Linked DNA regions of Homo sapiens. The protein of the gene in region 1 purifies or fractionates together with the protein of each later gene. This does not show direct contact. Each region holds a gene or a part of one and is shown on either strand. Other genes may lie near its edges.

Region 1 (2,952 bases):
TTGAAATTTCTTTTAGATCTAAAATTCTGTGATATGGTTTGGATCTGAGACCCCACCAAATTTCGTGTTGAAATGTAATCCCCAATGCTGGTGGGAGGTGATTGGATCATGGGGGTAGATTTCTCATGAATGGTTTAGCACCATTCTCTTGGTGCTGTTCTCATGATAGTGAGTGAGTTCTCATGAGTTCTGGTTGTTTAAAAGTGTGCAGCATCTCCCTGACCCCTCTTGCGCCAGCTCCCACCATGGGAGATGCCTCGCTCCCCCTTTGCTTTTTGCCATGAGAGGAAGCTTCCTGAGGGCTCTCCAGAAGCAGAATCTACTACACTTCTCATACAGCCTGCAGAACCATGAGCCAATTAAACCTCTTTTTAAAAACACTTTTATTTTAAGTTCAGGGGTACATGTGCAGGATGTGCAGGTTCGTTCCATAGGTAAACATGCGTCATGGGGTTTGTTATGCAGATTATTTCATCACCTAGATATTAAGTCTAGTATCCATTAGTTATTTTTCCTGATCCTCTCCCTCCTCCCACCCTGCACCCTCTGATAGGCCTCAGTGTGTATTGTTACCCTCCACATGTCCATGTGTTCTCATGATTTAGCTCCCACTTATAAGTGAGAACATGCAGTTTTTGTAAACCTGTTTTCTTTAGGGAAAGTTTAGAATTTTCTAGAGACTGGTTGTATGGTTGTGACCAAAATGCCAGTAGTGATATGGACAGTGAAGGCCAGGCTGAGGAGGTGATGGAAATGAGGAACTTACTGGGAACTGGAGCAAAGGTCACTTTTGTTATGCTTTAGCAAAGAACTTGGCTGCATTGTGCTCCTGGCCTAGGGACCTGTGGAAGTTTGAACTTGAGAGTGATGATTTTAGGGTATCTGGCAGAAAAAATTTCTAAGCAGCAAAGCATTCAAGATGCGCCCTGGCTGCTTTCAACAACCTATGCTCATATTTGTGAGCAAAGAAATTATGTTAAGTTGGAACTTATATTTACAGGGGAAGCAGAGCGTAAAAGTTTGGAGAATTTGCAGCCAGCTATGTGGTAGAAAAGAAGAGCCCGTTTTCAGGGAAGGAATTCAAGCAGGCTGCAGAAATTTGCATAAGTAAAAAGGAGCCAAGTGCTAATGGCCAAGAAAATGGGGAAAAGGCCTTGAAGGCATTTCAGAGACCTTTGTGGCAGCCCCTCCCATCACAGACTCAGAGGCCTAGGAGGACAGAATGACTCTGAGTATTAAAGTAGATTTAATCTAAATCATAAAGTACAAGCTAGAGCAATCCCTCCAGTGCTGCAGAAACTGCCTGCATGTGGCTCCCACATTGTTTCTTGGAGCTTTGGTGGTGGTAGGGGTGGCAGGGGCAGGTGTTATGTTTCTTGGTTTCTCACCTTCAGGTCTCCTTACCCATGTTTCCTTTGTCAGAGTCATTGGCCTTGATGGAGGGGAGACTGGGTTACTCTGAGTTGAGAAGCAAGCTTGACTGCCCTGTGGTTTATATCAGCCTAGCTTAGTTTGTTTTCTGAAGTCTTCACAAATAACCAAATATCCAGCCCAGTGCAGTTCTCAATGAGTAGTCTCCAGTTCCCATCCCCCACCACACACACACACCAAACACTGTGCCCACCTGGGAGACCCATTTTCATTTATCTTCTTCTTTGAGTGCCTGGAAGGCTGAACATTTGATCTTTTCAAACATTTTTCTCTCATCTGGCCTGTTAGCGCTCTTGAGCCTTTGAAAATGCCATTTCCTCTACATACTATTCTTCCTCAGAGCAGCCCTCTGTTTTTTTTTCCAACCAGTCTTTTCTCTTGCAAAGTTCAGATCAAAATTCTTCTTTATGTAAAGAGAAGTGGCGTGCCATAGGGGTTACAAACAGGGCTTCAAGGTTAGCACTGGGATCAAATTCCGACTTTGCAACTTAACTTTCTTGAGTAAGTTGCTACACCTCTATTAGCCTCAGTTTCTTATCTGTAAAATGGGACGGCTAAGTACCTATTTCATTGGGCTGTTGAATAATGATGGTCTCATCTATGCAAGGGCTTAGTACCAGCTGGGTGAAACTCAGTGAATGGCAGGCAACCCTATTATGACTAGGCTTCTGCCAATGATCAGACTTGAACCCTGTGCTCATCCCCCCATCACTTTGTGGAACTAGATGTCCTACGTTGCACATGGCTTGATTCATGGTTTGGAGTTGTTTTCTGGTTGTTTCCTGTGTGCAGGTTTAATCTCAACCTGTGATCCCTTGAAAGCTGCAATTTTATCCCTCCCCGTCCTCCTCCCTCTCACCCCAAGGCCAAGTTTAATACTGTGCATTCTGAAATCTTGCAATGTTGATGATGTAAAATAAATCTTCTCTCCTGTGTTTCTGAAGAATACTCAGAATCTCGCTACTCTGTTAAAGAAAAAAATCATTCACTGACACTTGTTTAAAGCATGTGAAGGAAGACTTCCTCATAACCATCACGGTAGGTATCGGGGCCGCTGCAATGAGACTTCTGCAGTTGGGGAGGGAGATTGGGCTCAACTCTGAGTACAAGACGAACAAGTGGGTATTTATAGCCCAGAAGTAGAGCAGAGGTCAGTGGATTGAAAATCACTCGGAGGAAACGTCAGGGATAAGGAGGATTCTAGCTAAACTGACCTAACAGGATTCTTGCTGAAGACAGGCCAGGATGATCAGACATCACCAGAGGGCTGGCGGAGGACAAGGAACTTGATCAGATATCAAGGATGATCTGATACTGAGGTGGGGGAGTTCTTTTGCCAAACTAACTTAGCAGGGTTCTTTGCTAAAACAATTTTACAAGGACACGCACAGATGAACCTAGGAGGAGGTTCAGGAGCCTGACTAAAGTTTGGTCAAGCAGAGAATCTTTGTCTCCTCTTGGAGCAGGTTATCTCTTTCCAAGGGTTAAAATGTGAGGGATTTGAAATGCCTGCAGGCCTGC
Region 2 (3,818 bases), on another chromosome or scaffold:
AGTCGTGTTGCCTGGGAGATGGGGACTCCTGGGGCCTGTTGATGGGAGCCTGGCACAGGGTGCAGCACGCAACTCCTAGCAGGTGTGCCGTCCTTGTAGGTAACACAGGCCCTGCCTGCCTGGCAGACTGGGCATCTGTAGGTAAATTGGGCCTCCCGATGAGTGGCAGAAGCGGCCCCAGAGCCCAGGCATCTGGGCCCTGGTCCTCTTTCTACTGCCCTGTGGTGACCCCACTCTTAACACGTCCCATAAAAGGGTCTTCCCTGGGCCAGATAACCCAAGGCAAGGCCCTTACAGAGCCAGCCTTGGCCTGGTGACCTTGCTGCAGAGCCTTTGGGGATGCCACACTTGGCCGAGTGACACAGAAATTTCCTTGATTATCTCAGTTTTCAAGAAGTTTGTGTGTATGAGTCTTTCTAGAACAAGTTTTGATAGCATTGGCCAAGGCTAAAAATAACATGATTTTCACCCATTAAAGGTAACGGATTCTTAAAAGTTACCCATCCATTTTGGGGAGCAGAGCTCAATTCTGTCTGTGCTCAGTAAACTCCAGTCTTTAGCCAACAGACAGGGGGACAAAAGCCACATCTGGGTGTAATGAGGGCTTACCACAGATAAATAGGAGCATAATCAACGCCTTTCACCGCCTCCCGCCCCTCCTTCCCCCCCCCCCACCCCTCCCCGGGCCCCCATTATGACTTATAATCTCTTTGCACCAGAGTCATGGATCGTTTTTTCGCTACCATCCCATATTTTAGCAAGTCTCTCCAGTATAGGTGGCAATAGAATTGCCTTCTAAGGAGCAAAACTGTGGTTTAACAGTAAATATGTATGCATACCTACCCTGAGCTGCTGCATTGTCGAAGTAATGTGCTTCCTTTCTCTCTAACAGCGGACAAGGAGTTGTGAAACTGGACGTTCAGCCAAAGTGCGTAGCCGTCGGCCCCGGGGGATACGCCGTGGTCGTGTGCATTGGACAGGTAGGGACCTGGCTTAGTGTTTGGGTGGGAGCCTGCAGCTGTGTGGTGCCTGCTTGCTGAATTTGACTCATGTCCCGTTTGACAGTTGCTCTAGCCAGTGTTTTGGTTGAGTGCTCATTTGCACTGCACTAAGGGATCTCACATATTTAATCCTCACCACCATCACATCAGTTGTACAGATGAAGAAATGGAGGCACGGAATGGATAAATTGGTTGTCCAAGGCCGCAGCTGGTCGGAGGGCAGAGCTGGGATTTGTCTCTAAGCCTCAGACCACGCTGCCTGCCTGTCAGCCTGTAAAGTCTATGAGATACCCTGTGGGGTGGGCCTGCCTTTGCTCCTGTTCACATCCCAGCCCTGCTGCATTGTAGCTGTGTGACCTCCGGCATTTACCTCACCCTCTCTGAGCCTTAGTTTCCCATCCCCAGCACTCACAGATCCAGGTGATTATGAGGAAGTACATGTAAGTCTCCTTACACCATCTTGGTTCCTCTTACAGATGAGGAGGCTGAGGCCTAGAGCAGCTTGGTACTTTCCCACATGCAGAAGGGTGGCACCTGACTTCCCGGCCTGGCTTCTAACCCCAGACAGTGGGGCCACCTGCACACCTTTGGAATATCTGGACCAAAGCCACCTGAGACCCAAGCCTGACCCACTTTATACAGAATTCTGCCCTGCAGAAGATATTATCTGTTGGCGGGCCTAGGCTTGCTGGCATGTAGACCGGGGAAGTCAAGGGGCACCTGTTGGCACGAGTGGCGAGCCCTGCTAAAGAAAGCTGCTTTCAGCACCCTCTGGCCCTCCTTTGCCTTGTGAACTTAATTGCGTTAGGGACAGTGGATTTCTCTGTGTCCTAGATAATAAGAAATCCCTGCCAAGTAATTATTGCAAACAGCCTGGACAGCCAGTGGGGGTGGGGAGGTGCAAAGGGAATCCACACATGGAGCGCCTCGGGGCCTGGGGGAAACGCTACAAAGCGGAGTTCTAGAAGGCTGGCAGGTGGCCTATCTCTGCACAGCAGGGCTCTTCCCAGCCAAGGGGTCTGCACATGGGGCTTTGTGGGTGAGGGGATGAGGCCTAGGGCAGCGTGCCCTGTGTCTCCAGACCCAGGTTTCCTCATCTGTAAAGTTGTGGTCATCATAGGCCACCCTTTCCCCTGAGGCTGAGAGGATGTTCAGACTGGCCCAGCTGGCGCCTGCTGCCCAGGAGGTTAGAAAGGACCCCGGTAGGGTTGTGGTGTGCAGGGGACAGGCTCCAGGTCTCTGCACCTCCTCATGTGGCATTTCTCTGTGATCTGCTGTTACCTGATCCTCCCAGGGCATCTGGAACCCCTGCTCTGGGTCAGAATTTTCTGCAGAGCTCCCTGTCACCAGTCAAAGAGTTAGGAGGGTGCTAGGAGGGGCCTGGGATTTTAGATCAGGAAACAACCAGGTTCAAGTCTCATGTCGGACGAAGCTTCAGGCAAATGCTTAGGCCCTCATTCTTCACCTGTGAGTAGGTAAGGCCACCTCCAGAGCCGGGCAGATGACAGAGGTGCCTCTTCAGTAGTAGGTTTTAGTCAGGGTGCTGCTACCATTCATCGCGATCCACCCACAATCCACGCAGAAACAGAAGCCCAGACGGTAGGGGCAGAGGCTGCCTTCCCTCATGACAGCTGGTGGCTTGGGTAGGGGCACACTGGGATAAAGGCAAAACTCAGAGATGAAGGCCACTGTCTGGGAGCAGTTGAGTAAGTTAGAACCGGAAGAATTGACAAGGAAGGGAGATGGAAGGAAGGCCCCCGCTGCAGAGCCTCTGCTGCATGTACCAGAGGCAAAGGCCCAGTGCGGGTGCCGAGGCTTGGATTCTGGGCGAGTCCCGGCTCAGCCTGTGGGAACTGGAGCCTTGGGCGTGCAGCATAAGCACCGTACCCCATTTTCTTCTCTGAAACGGGGAACCCGATCCCTGCCTTGTGGGGCTGGAACACTCACAGCAGAGCGCTGGCACGTGCCTAGGGGCTGTCGCTGTTTTTGTTTACTGTTGTTAGTACCTTTCTTACCCTGAACGTTGATTCCCATCGAGGCCAAGTGACTTTCCAAGAGGTGGTGCTGTGGTGACTGCCTTGGAAGTAATGTAGTGATGACAGTAATGGTCACAGTTAGTTGTGTTTCCTGCCCCACCTGACTGGCTAGAGCAACTGTCAAACGGGACATGAGTCCAGGTGGTGTGGCTCAGAGCCCCAGGTGGCCCTGCAAAGAGGTTGGGTATGGAGCCAAACCCAGCTCCAGTGAGCCCCGACAGGGACGCGCCCCTCCTACCACTGAGGGTTTTGTCCCGAAGGGCTGGACCGCCTGACCAGCTGCCTGTGTGTGCCACAGATTGTCCTGCTGAAGGATCAGAGGAAGTGCTTCAGCATCGACAACCCCGGCTACGAGCCCGAAGTTGTGGCAGTGCACCCCGGCGGGGACACGGTGGCAATTGGGGGTGTGGTAAGTCGCTTTCCTCTCCCCCGTGCTCTCTGTCCTTGGTATCTGGGTGATTTGGGGACAGTGTGAGCTGTGTGAGTACCGGGGCTGTCTCAGGGAAGGCGAGGGGTCAGGGGAAGGATGGGGGCAGTCGGGGCGTGGGACCTGCTCTGGGGCCCAGCCACGCCATCTCCTGCCACCCAGGGCTGGAGCCTTCCCCTCCCCTCCTCGGCACTTCCCCCACCTCACTGCCCGGGTGCCCACAAGACTGTGGACAGTGAGGTAGAGGGAGTGCCGAGGAGGGCACAGCTGTGCCTCAGAGCCAGCCCCATGAGTGGCGGCAGGAGGGGAGCGCAAGAGGGTAGCAGGTCAGGAAATCAAGGAATGGCATCCCCT

Evidence for each region.
Region 2: the proteins of GSTO2 (region 1) and WDR1 fractionate together in Homo sapiens (co-fractionation; one large-scale study listed by BioGRID). This does not show direct contact.

Annotation. Positions count from the first base shown.
Region 1 is NC_000010.11:104,302,572-104,305,523, forward strand, and holds the end of GSTO2 (glutathione S-transferase omega-2), read left to right. Parts: 3' UTR 1-2,379; downstream 2,380-2,952. UniProt on the Homo sapiens protein: Exhibits glutathione-dependent thiol transferase activity. Has high dehydroascorbate reductase activity and may contribute to the recycling of ascorbic acid. Participates in the biotransformation of inorganic arsenic and reduces monomethylarsonic acid (MMA).
Region 2 is NC_000004.12:10,078,519-10,082,336, reverse strand, and holds part of WDR1 (WD repeat-containing protein 1), read left to right. Parts: intron 1-892; coding exon 893-980; intron 981-3,335; coding exon 3,336-3,446; intron 3,447-3,644; exon of another isoform or gene 3,645-3,726; intron 3,727-3,818.